Regions from separate parts of the Homo sapiens genome. Here region 2 is linked to region 1. Evidence: fine-mapped expression QTL. Tissue or cell type: ovary. Region 1 holds a variant in brackets; the other region holds the start of a gene. All regions are shown on one strand. Distances are between the middles of the regions.

Evidence for each region. PIP is the estimated chance that this variant, and not a neighbour inherited with it, causes the effect.
Region 2: CENPP starts here. The variant in region 1 is fine-mapped to the expression of CENPP in ovary (GTEx, PIP above 0.99).

Annotation. Positions count from the first base shown.
Region 1 is chr9:91,401,500-91,406,712 of GRCh38, forward strand. No RefSeq gene overlaps it. Among named protein-coding and RNA genes, the nearest start is that of NFIL3, 20 kb to the right of the region's middle. The variant T/C (reference allele first, on the strand shown) is at 2,240.
Region 2 is chr9:92,322,932-92,328,058 of GRCh38, forward strand. It overlaps CENPP (centromere protein P), which reads left to right and starts at 3,022. Exons shown (of 8, transcript NM_001012267.3): 1 at 3,022-3,174. The coding sequence starts at 3,068. NOL8 (nucleolar protein 8) reads right to left here and starts at 2,419. Exons shown (of 17, transcript NM_017948.6): 1 at 2,375-2,419; 2 at 1,092-1,278; 3 at 510-572. The coding sequence starts at 1,230. RefSeq lists enhancers at 1,701-2,589, 2,368-2,487, 2,518-2,627.

The DNA of each region.
Region 1 (5,213 bases):
AGACAATTATCTTGATTTTTCTAGAAACACACTCATTTAAAATATCAAAAAATTCAGAATATTTTCCCTTGAATTATTTCAGTAATTATCCCAATTTTGTTCTGTATTGATGTTGGTATGATATTAGGTGCCACTTGGGGCATACAATACAAAAGCAACTACAAACTGAAGAAGCAAAAAATAACATCATGATACTTATCATACTTTGCGGAAAATGAAGAACAGGTTCATTACAATGCACCATCTTCAGTGACCCTGGCTCTGCTGGGGTTTCACTGTTGTTGAAGTGTTCAGAACACACTAATGTACCCAGGGAAGGAAGAGCTCTTTGGCTTCTCCAGATCTTTTTCTTGACTCCTGCTCACCTGCTCTCCTGACTCTCCCACCTGGATTCACCTTGAGCTGACACCCCTGATAAGTCTTTCAGCAGCATTTACAAGGTTACATTTCCTCCAGCCATTCCTAAGTGAATCAAAGGCATTTTCTTAAGCCTGGAATTCAAGGTCCTTTGGCAACTGGTTCTATGTTCATCTTTGAATTCTGTTACTAATCCTCTGAATAAATTCCCTTCTGCAATGATGCAGAGTACTTCATCACTTTACCGCCCCCTGCCCCCAACAGTAGTATTCATGCCCAACACGTCTTCCCTGCTCATCCAAGTTCTAAATTTTCCTTCTCATCTAGGTTCTTTCTTTTTTGCTTTCTTTTTATGTCTTTTTTTTTTTTTCCTGAGACAGGGTCTTGCTGTGTCACCCAGGCTGGAGTGCAGTGGTACAATAACGGCTCACTGCAGCCTTGACCTCCTGGGCTCAAGTGATTGTCCTACTTCAGCTTCTTGACCAGCTGGGACTACAGGCACACACCACCACACTCGGCTAATTTTTAAATTTTTTGCAGAGATGGGGTTTCCCCATGTTGCCCAGGCTGGTCTCGAACTCCTGAGCTCAAGCAATCCTCCTTCCTGGCCTCCCAAAGTGATGGGATTACAGGTGTGACTACCACACCTGACTAATCCAGGTTCTTTAATTGCCAAAATGTCCTTTAGTTTCTTCCCAGTTCTGTTTCCTGAGTTTCTTTGGTAGATATATTTCTTTTTTTTTTTTTTGAGATGGAGTCTCGCCTTGTCGCCCTCGCTGGAATGCAGTGGCACAATCTTGGCTCACTGCAACCTCCGCCTCTTGGGTTCAAGTAATTCTCTGCCTCAGCCTCCCGAGTAGCTGGGATCACAAGCATGCGCCACCATGCCCAGCTAATTTTTGTACTTTTAGTAGAGACAGGGTTTCACCATCTTGGCCAGGCTGGTCTTGAACTCCTGACCTTGTGATCTGCCCGCCTTGGCCTCCCAAAGTGCTAGAATTATAGGCGTGAGCCACTGCACCCAGCCAGATAGATTTCTTTCTACCTATTCTACCTCTTGATAATGTACTCTATTGGCTCTTACTACTTTTAGCATTTTGGTCTTTCCTTTACAGGTAGATTTAAAACTCTTCACAAGGAGATAGTTTCTTTTTGTTATGTTTCCTTTACAGCATGTTGCACAGAACTGGGTATCCATTAGGCGATTCATGGTCATTGAAAATTAGCAGGTAGGGGTGTTCCCTAACCCCTGAGATCTAGATAAGATGACCTCCAGGTCTTAGTTGCATGGGTCGTCACAGTCCAAGTCTCCTTCCAGATTCTGCAGGTTCCTCGGGTCAGCCTTCATGGCCATGGCCTTGGACTCCTGCTTTCAGACAAGCTGCTCTGCAGAATGCTCACTCAGATATAAAGTCCAGCAAACAAAAACTCACAAAAAGCATTTCTGAGTCTAGTAGGACCTACTGAAAATCTAAGGAGGAAATATTCTGGACTGTTTCCATTCGGCAATGGAAACTATTTCAAATCAGACAGTGGCCTTCTGGGTCCTGTGGCTGCCCACCCACAGGGAGTCTGCATTGGCTCTTTAGCCAGGCAGGGTTCCCTCCCTTCTCTTTTCTCCTCCATCCTCTTTCTTTCAAAAGCAATCCTCCCCGCTGCCCTAAAAAAGCACAAATCACCACCATCATCTGACTCACTTTCTCTGCAAAGCAACTTACCTATGTTTGTGCCAGGCATCTACAAACATCACGGTTTTTAGCATTTCTGCTGGGATCCCAGTATCATATCAAAGTTCTTTTCTCAGAAAGAAAGTTCCCTCTCTCACTAGAAATCTGACATAGCTGTTAGAACAACTTTGTTTTTTAACCCTGTTATACTGAAA[T/C]ATGTTTACTTCAGGGGTTATTAATTTTGAGGTTCCTTCCTGTTCTTCATCTCCCTTTTGTTAGATTGCTATGTTATTCTTGAACAACTTCCTTTTTCTCCCTCCTTTCCTACCATGATTTCTTCCATGTACTCTTTCAAAAGTTTCTTGACCTCCAGAACTTTGGACTTTATTAAGGTTTTTTCCCCAAAGTAACCTTTTCCTTCTCAAGTGGATCAGATTGACAAAAGTGAGGTATAAAAAATGGCCGTCATACCTGTCTGGGCTACTTAGCTGAAATAGTTTACTTTAGAAGGCTCTACACAAGTACTTCTGTTTGCCTCTCTGTAGACTTATCGATACTCAGCAGACAGTAACCACTCTTTGCCGGTCTCCAGCATGACTTAGCAGTGACAGCTTCTCTCTCCCAACTTTCTAAGTAGCGCCTCTTCGTCAGGAAGTGTCGTCTATTTTCTGGTGCTCATACTACCCCGGGTCTTATTTTCACTAATTCTTGAATTAATTTTTTCCTTACATCCACTAGAATCAAAATAAGCAACCTCTGGGAATTACTGCCAAACTCTCTCTCTCTTTTTTTTCCCTCGAGATGGAGTCTTGCCCTGTCACTCAGGCTGGAGTTCAGTGGCATGATCTCAGTTCACTGCAACCTCCGCCTCCCGGGTTCAAGCAATTCTCTTGTCTCAGCCTCCCAAGTAGCTGGGATTACAGATGCGCGCACCACGCCCGGCCAATTTTTATATTTTTAGTACAGACAGGCTTTCACCATGTTGGCCAGGCTGATCTTGAACTACTGACCTCAGGTGATCCGCCTGCCTCAGCCTCCCAAAGTGCTGGGATTACAGGTGTGAGCCACCGTGCATGGCTGACTCTTTAAACCAGTTGTATTTTTTATTACCTTTCCAGAGATATCCTTGTGTACCTTTTTCTGGGAAGACTATATGGTTCATAATTCTGCATGTTCTCTTACTTCTGTATCCTCACTGGTATTTTGAGTATGCCACAATTTCACATCCTTGGCAAGATTTTTTTTTTCTTTTTTTTCTTTTTTTTTGAGATGGAGTCTCGCTCTTGTCACCCAGGCTGGAGTGCAGTGGCACAATCTCAGCTCACTGCAACCTCTGTCTTCTGGGTTCAAGTGATTCTACTCTCTCAGCCTCCTGAGTAGCTGGGAATACGGGTGCCCGCCACCACACCTGGCTAATTTTTGTATTTTTAGTAGAGACAGGGTTTCACCATGTTGGCCAGGCTGGTCTCGAACCCTTGACCTGAGGTGATCCGCCCGCCTTGTCATCCCAAAGTGCTGGGATTACAGGCGTGAGCCACCACACCCAACCACAAGTTTTTCTTATTTAAATTTTTTTGGTGCAAGTAGCTGGTGGCCCAGCACAAGACATCCCAGTGGTAATTAATACTACACTTCAACAACTCCCCATCTCTGCCCCACAGAACACAAAGCAACAAAAACCAGGTGGGTGCTGCCAATAATTTTCATTTCTGAGAAATAATTCATAGTTTTCAAAAAATGAGCTTAACAGCTACTAGTTTTTTAAAAAATGTAACATGATTTCTTTTAAGGTTTTAATTAACAACGGCTGTGTGTCAAAAAGGTGCCCATTTGTGAGGAATCTGACTTCAGGAGAGGAAACACGTGTGCATATCCATGAGCAATGGAAGACCTACGCTGATGGGGGCTGTTTTAATTTGGGAATGTTTGCTGGTTGAGGACAAAAAAGAATAAAGTTATTACACAGTTATTATATATCTATACAAGTAGATGCTTAGACAGCAGTTTTACTGATTGACAGAGCAAAGTCACTTTGGATACTCCCTTGGACTCCTTCCTTTTCTCATGCAGGTTGGAGAGACGCCTTAGTCTCATTTCCCGGGTATATCGGGGGAAGAACAAAGTGCCTGACCTGACCGCTGCTTTTCATGGCCAGCTGGGAGAGTTTCGACAAGTCAACCTCTCAGAGTCTCAGCATTCCTCTTTATAAAAATGGGCACAACAATGAAAAACCGAAAATCAAAAAAGGCCAAACAATGGGCACAAGATGGCTATGCAGCTGTGCAGCCTTCCCGCGGGGCGCATGCGCATGCGTGCACTGCACAGGGGCGCTGTGGGCTACCAGGGCGCAGGCCACCCCAACCACCCCCGCCCCCGGCCGCCGACTCTGCCCTGCGCTGCTCCCCACTGCGATTGGCCTGGCTGGTGGCTGTGGCTGCTGTGTCCTCGCCCAGCCAATGCCCCTGAGGATCACTCAGGTTCCCCACAGGGCTCTCCTGTTCAGTCACTGGGGCGGAACCCAGTGGGAGCTTTCTCGGGTTGTGACTGACCGCAGCTTCCTCTCACTATCTAGGCCTGCCGGATAGCCACCTTGCTGGGAATTCTTAAACCTTCTGGAGCTCTGAGGTTTGTGTTTCTTATTTTTGAATATAGTTATACATTTATTTGGTTTTAAACACATTTTCTCTCATTCTTGGGGGCTCTGTGAGTGGGAAGGAGAGGCGGTGGTGTTTGGTTGGTTGACATCATGAAACCAAAGTATCACGGTGTAATTTTACTTTGCGTTTCTTTGGTCTCTAGTGGGATTGGAATTGCTTGTTTATGATATTCCTTTTATTCCTAAGGAGTTACATTTTTTTTGGGGGGGGGGGGCGATAAGTAAGGTCTTGCTCTGTTGCCCAGTCTGGGGTGCAGTTGTGCCATTGCAGCTCACTACAGCCTAGAACTCCTGGGCTTGAGCGATCCTCCCTCCTCAGCCTCCTGCAGAGTTAGGACTACAGGCATGTGCCACCATACCCAGCTAATTTTGGGGAGGTTTTGGGGGTGGGGGTAGTGACAGGATCTCACTATGTTGCCCATTCTTGGCTCAAACTCCTGGACTCAAGCAATTCTCCCACCTAGGCCTCCCAAAGTGCTGGGATTATAGGCGTGAGCCACCACCCCCGGCCACGAGGGGTCACATTTAAAAAT
Region 2 (5,127 bases), 920 kb after region 1:
ATATGTTACTGTGTCAGCGGCAGTATGGATTATCTCCCATTCTTCATTGAAGGCCACTGTTTGCCCTTGACTTTACTAAACTTATCAACAAGAGATTTCACAATTTCAAGGATACGGTCTTACAAGGGTGTATTTTAAAGCCCCCTCAAGAGTGTTTAGTGACAAGGATTAGCTGTCAAAGAAATGATCAGACTGAGGGGGAATGTGGCATGATATTCAGTGGGATATATGTAACAGGCAGTTTCTATGAAAGTTTGGTCCCTTGTCCAAAATATTTGAGAATAGCAGTTTTAAGTAAACCCACCAGTAAAGTGCTACCATGTCTGCTGATGCCAAATGGAATGGACCTAAACCTGCTGAGTTATACGATACTGGAATTCTCTTCATCACTGCTGTCCCTCTGGATAACGTGAAAAATGGCTGTGGAGGTTTAGATTTAGAACCAGTTATTCCAAGTTACAGAGTCATACAAACTGGCAAACAGTATAGAAAATATATGATGATCTTACATTTTTTCAGGTCCGCTTCTGCTACACTGATGTTGATATATGCAAAAACTTTCTGTGGGTTTCCTAAAAAACAAACAAACAAACAAACAAAACAATTTATTTAAATTCTTATCCAGAGAGCAATGTAAAAACGGTTGTTTCTAAATTAAAAAAAAAAATAGCTCTTGAAAACTTATTATTTCAAAGATAAACCTTGTTTTTTATTGGCTATAAAAATAAGCATAATTATCAAAATATTCCAAAAAAAAAAAGAAGAAAATGTCCAGTAGTCAGATAAGGAAACATTTTGATTGTATGCTAGTGATAGTCTACTTAACGGGACACTTAATCCATGTTAGAAAATTCTAGTTCTCAAAACTGGAAGTTAATATGTTTCTGAAATCAGATGTTTTAGAATTTGGAATTTTTTCTTATTTCAGAAACAAATTCTGGTCAAGTTCCACATCACACATTATACCTCCACAACATCACTTAAAACTTTTGGTGTTCAGAGCTAACATTTATCTTGGGGTTGTTTTATTTTCTAGCACTTAACCTGAGTTATGTCTGCCTATAACTGCCCAGTGAAGGACCATAAATTACCTTGGTCATCTTTCCGTGTGATGATCTCCACATCCGAAACTTCTCCAAATCTGCTGAACTGATTTTGTAGGTCTGCCTCAGAAATGTCCTGGCTAAGGCCACCCACATAAAGGCGCTTCGTTTCTCTGTTCACTTTCATGAAGGCTGGGCATATACTTGGGTGTGTTTCAGTGGGAAAAGTAATTTTCTGTATACAGAGAAGAGTTCTTTCCCTTAGTTCTTCTAAAATCTAACAAAACAACTACTTCCTCTGAACCTTCTGTATCAAATCCGTCTCCTGGATCTGTATTTCACTTCCTATTGTATTACTTCCAAATTTTAGTCTTCGAGGTTTTGCCCAAGCCCTACATCCACATCTTTCATGAATGCACTTTGGAACAGCAACCCCATACCCATATAGACACAGGTACAGACAGAGTTTTTTTCCTCCAAATGGCCATAATATTACACTCTATCCCTCTTAATTTTATGTATTCATGTTTTTAGATGTTTTTCCTTGACTCACTCATACATTCATTTACTGTCTTTAACAAAGTCTGACAGAAACAGGATGTAACGCACTAAAAGATAAAAAGAGCTAGCCTACCTCTTCCTAATTGTCTCCACCCCCAACCTACCCACCCCAGCCTTCTTCCTCCTAGAAGACCCAAAGAAGTGAATAGAGAGGCTAGGAGCTCCTTATAGTCACAAAAGAATAAAACAAATGGCACAATATTATGTCACAATAAAAGTGCTGCAAAGTGGGGTTCAGACACAAAGATCAAGGGATATAGCGAATACAGACTTGTGTTTTTGCTATGTGCCTGCATTGTACAAAGTAGTTTGCATGTTTCCCATTTTTCAGGAGAGCAGAAGAGGTTAAGTCACTTCCTCAATGCCATACCGAAAATTAGTGAATCCAGGATTATAATGCAGGTCTACCTTCAGAACTTGGAATTCTTAACACTATACTATGAAGGTTGCTGTATCACAGGGGACTCAGGAAAACTTTTCCAGAGGTACTAGGGCCCATCATAGTATCTCTCATTTCGTTTAGCACCCGGCAGGCGCTCAGCTCTCGCCCTTCCCTTCCCCAAGAGCTGACAGACTCTTTCCAGAAGAGACTCCCAACCAGCGTCCACCACATGGCGTGTATTCTGGGCAGAACTTCGGCCTACCTCTTCCCGATAGTCTCCGCCCCCAGCCTACCCACGGCAGCCTTCTTTCTCTGAGAAGACCCAAAGAAGTGAAGAGAGACTAGGAAACGGCCCTGTGACTTCTCATGCCCGAAACCCACTCCTCACCACGTCGTTCACCTAAAGCCAGCGCCGCTGCAGCCCCTAACTTCTGGTCACGTGTCCCAACGGAGCATCCTCTCTTCCTTCCTACTCGATTTCCAACCCAGCCTCCTAAGGTTCCGTTACCACAATTCAGTTCCCAAGAGCTTTTAATTTCCTTTTCCGTCCTCCCACCTTCCCTGACGCCTCCGTCACCTCCCCCTCAACGACTGCAAAAGAGCCTAAACCAAAATCCCCTAGTTTCTATTGAACACTATCGCTGTGTGTACCAATTCCTGGACTAGGTCGGCGTAAGAGAGGAAGTAGGTGAAAAAAATAAAGAGGCGCTCCCCTCCACGTGATCCCAGCCCTGCCTCTTTAGTGAGGCACGCGGCCGGGCGGCTCCAAGGCTGCCGGCTAGGGTGAGCAGCGGAGCGCTTGGGCTTGGAGTAGCAAAGAACGCGCTCTCCAGAGAAAGTATAGCCACTGCTTAGACAGCCAGGGAAACGTGTGCGGGGAAGTGGAGGACTCAGGCTCTCGTGCGAGAGCGGAGTTGGACGTGCAGGGCCGCTGGGGTCACGCGGAGCTCTCCCGCCTCCCCTCCGCGTGAGCTCTGGGATGGTCCGCGCCGGGAGCGCGCGCGAGGCTTGAAGCGCGGGTGAAGCGCGCAGGTCGGAGTGACAGCTGCGCTGCCGGCCCGGCTGCGGTCAGCAACGCGCCATGGACGCAGAGCTGGCAGAGGTGCGCGCCTTGCAAGCTGAGATCGCGGCCCTGCGGCGAGCGTGTGAGGACCCACCGGCGCCCTGGGAAGAGAAGTCCCGAGTCCAGTACGTGACCACCCCAAGTCCCCCAGGGCCCGCTGGCCAGGGTTCCCGGGCCAGGCGGGTGAATCTCCACAGACATCCTCGGTCTCCTACTCCCAGCCCTAGAAAGTGGGCATGAACTGGCATTGATCCTGTCATGACGATGGCCTAGAGTTGGGAGCAGCGCGTACGGCGCCCAGCTGTAAACGCATTGCAGGGTATTAACTCGTTTAATCGCAGTCGTCTGTGTGGATGACTGACAAGGAGGAAGTCTTGACTATATCCCTAGCTAGATAATTCCGCCTCCAGTATGCAGAAGTATCTCTAGTTGGGATTTAATAACTCCGTTTGGTTTCATGGCATTTGTTTTGGTAGGTCAGCTAACCATCTCAACTGATAATGACTTTGTGTTTACGATGACATAAAAATTCCTTTGAAAAATAACTTCGGTAAAAAACTAAGTTGATAAAAGAAAAGTAGTTAATATAGACTGCAGGAGAATTTGACATTCCTCTGAGGTAGGTGCTACTGTTAGCCCTGTTTTATAGTTGAAGAAACTGAGGCTCAGAGAAGTTAGGTAGCTTGTCCAAGGTTCCAGAGAAAGGAATTGTCAGAGATGGATTGGGACCCAAAAATTTTACTCCAAAGTCTGGGCACTTTTGGTTTATTGAAGGAGAGGGAGAGAAAAGCTCTGCAACCGTAATTATGTATTATCATCTCAAACATAGAAGCCTCTCGAAAACATAAACTGTCTTCAATTTTTGAGTCAAGAGTAATTTGACATAGGTGCAGAAAGAATGGGATTTTTCCTGAGCTAACTGGAGAAGAATTGGTAGAAAATGGGAAGGAGGAGATCTACAGAAAATGTCTGCGTGCGGTCATGAAAGTAGAGGAAGCTGTGACTGGTTAAAGGGAGAGGAAAAAGGTGTGCTCCTCCACAAATGAGAGTAAATGTATTAAAGACCCTTGCTATTTGAGGTGTGCTCCACAGATGGGACGCTTTAGCATTACCTGGCGGTTTGTTAGAGCGACATCCTGACCTACTGAATCAGAATCTGCATTTTAAAAAAATACACTGCCCTAACAGAGGATTTGTGTGCACACTTGGAAGTTTAAGAACCAGGGAAAAATAGTTTCTTTACTGGCCACAAGATTTCATTAGTCCCCATAGTAGTGTCAACTGAAAAATCATGAGATCTGCAAATTTAGAGAGACTATTTCTTAAAAAGGGTTACAGTCTGCAAAGTGGCCATCCTGACAGGCTAGGAAGCATAGTCTCAGGCAAAGCAGAAAGGCCCACACTTTGGAGGAGGAGGGGTTGGGGCAGGGATTTATGCTGTATGAGTGGGCTAGGTATACATATTCAACAGGTTATAGGAGGGGCTATGAATATTCACGAAGGGAGATGTGCTCACCTGTACTGAATAAAAATGCATATTACATGCACTCCATATTCATTTTGGGAAGCTGACTTAATATTTAAATGCATTACAATTAGGCCCTGTACGTCAAAAGTTGAAGGAGGGAAGCAAAGGTACTTAAGTACACAGGCCTTGTAAACCTGTTAGAACAAGTCCATGGTTGGTGATCTTATCAAAAGAAAATTTTTGAAATCATTCTCTTGTCCTATCAAAGCCTGTGGAACAGGGGAATCAGTTAGCATCTGGTGGTGGATGAACTGCAATTATTTCAATATTGCTTATCTGGAGGCCAGTGCTAGTGAAAAAAATATTGTGGCAGTTAGAACATAGTTCATTCTTTTAAAGGTAGGGGGTATGTGACTTAACCCTTGCCTGGCATGGCCTTAGGTCTTGTTTATAATTTGGTATCTTATTGCCACAGAGTCCGTTCTGCAACTCTTACGATCTCTATTTTAACATTAATGCTGGTCAGTTGTTGTGTCTACATCCCAAATAGGAAGGGGTATAACGAGGTGTGTCTGACCTCCCATCCTGTCATGGTTAAGAACTGAGTTTT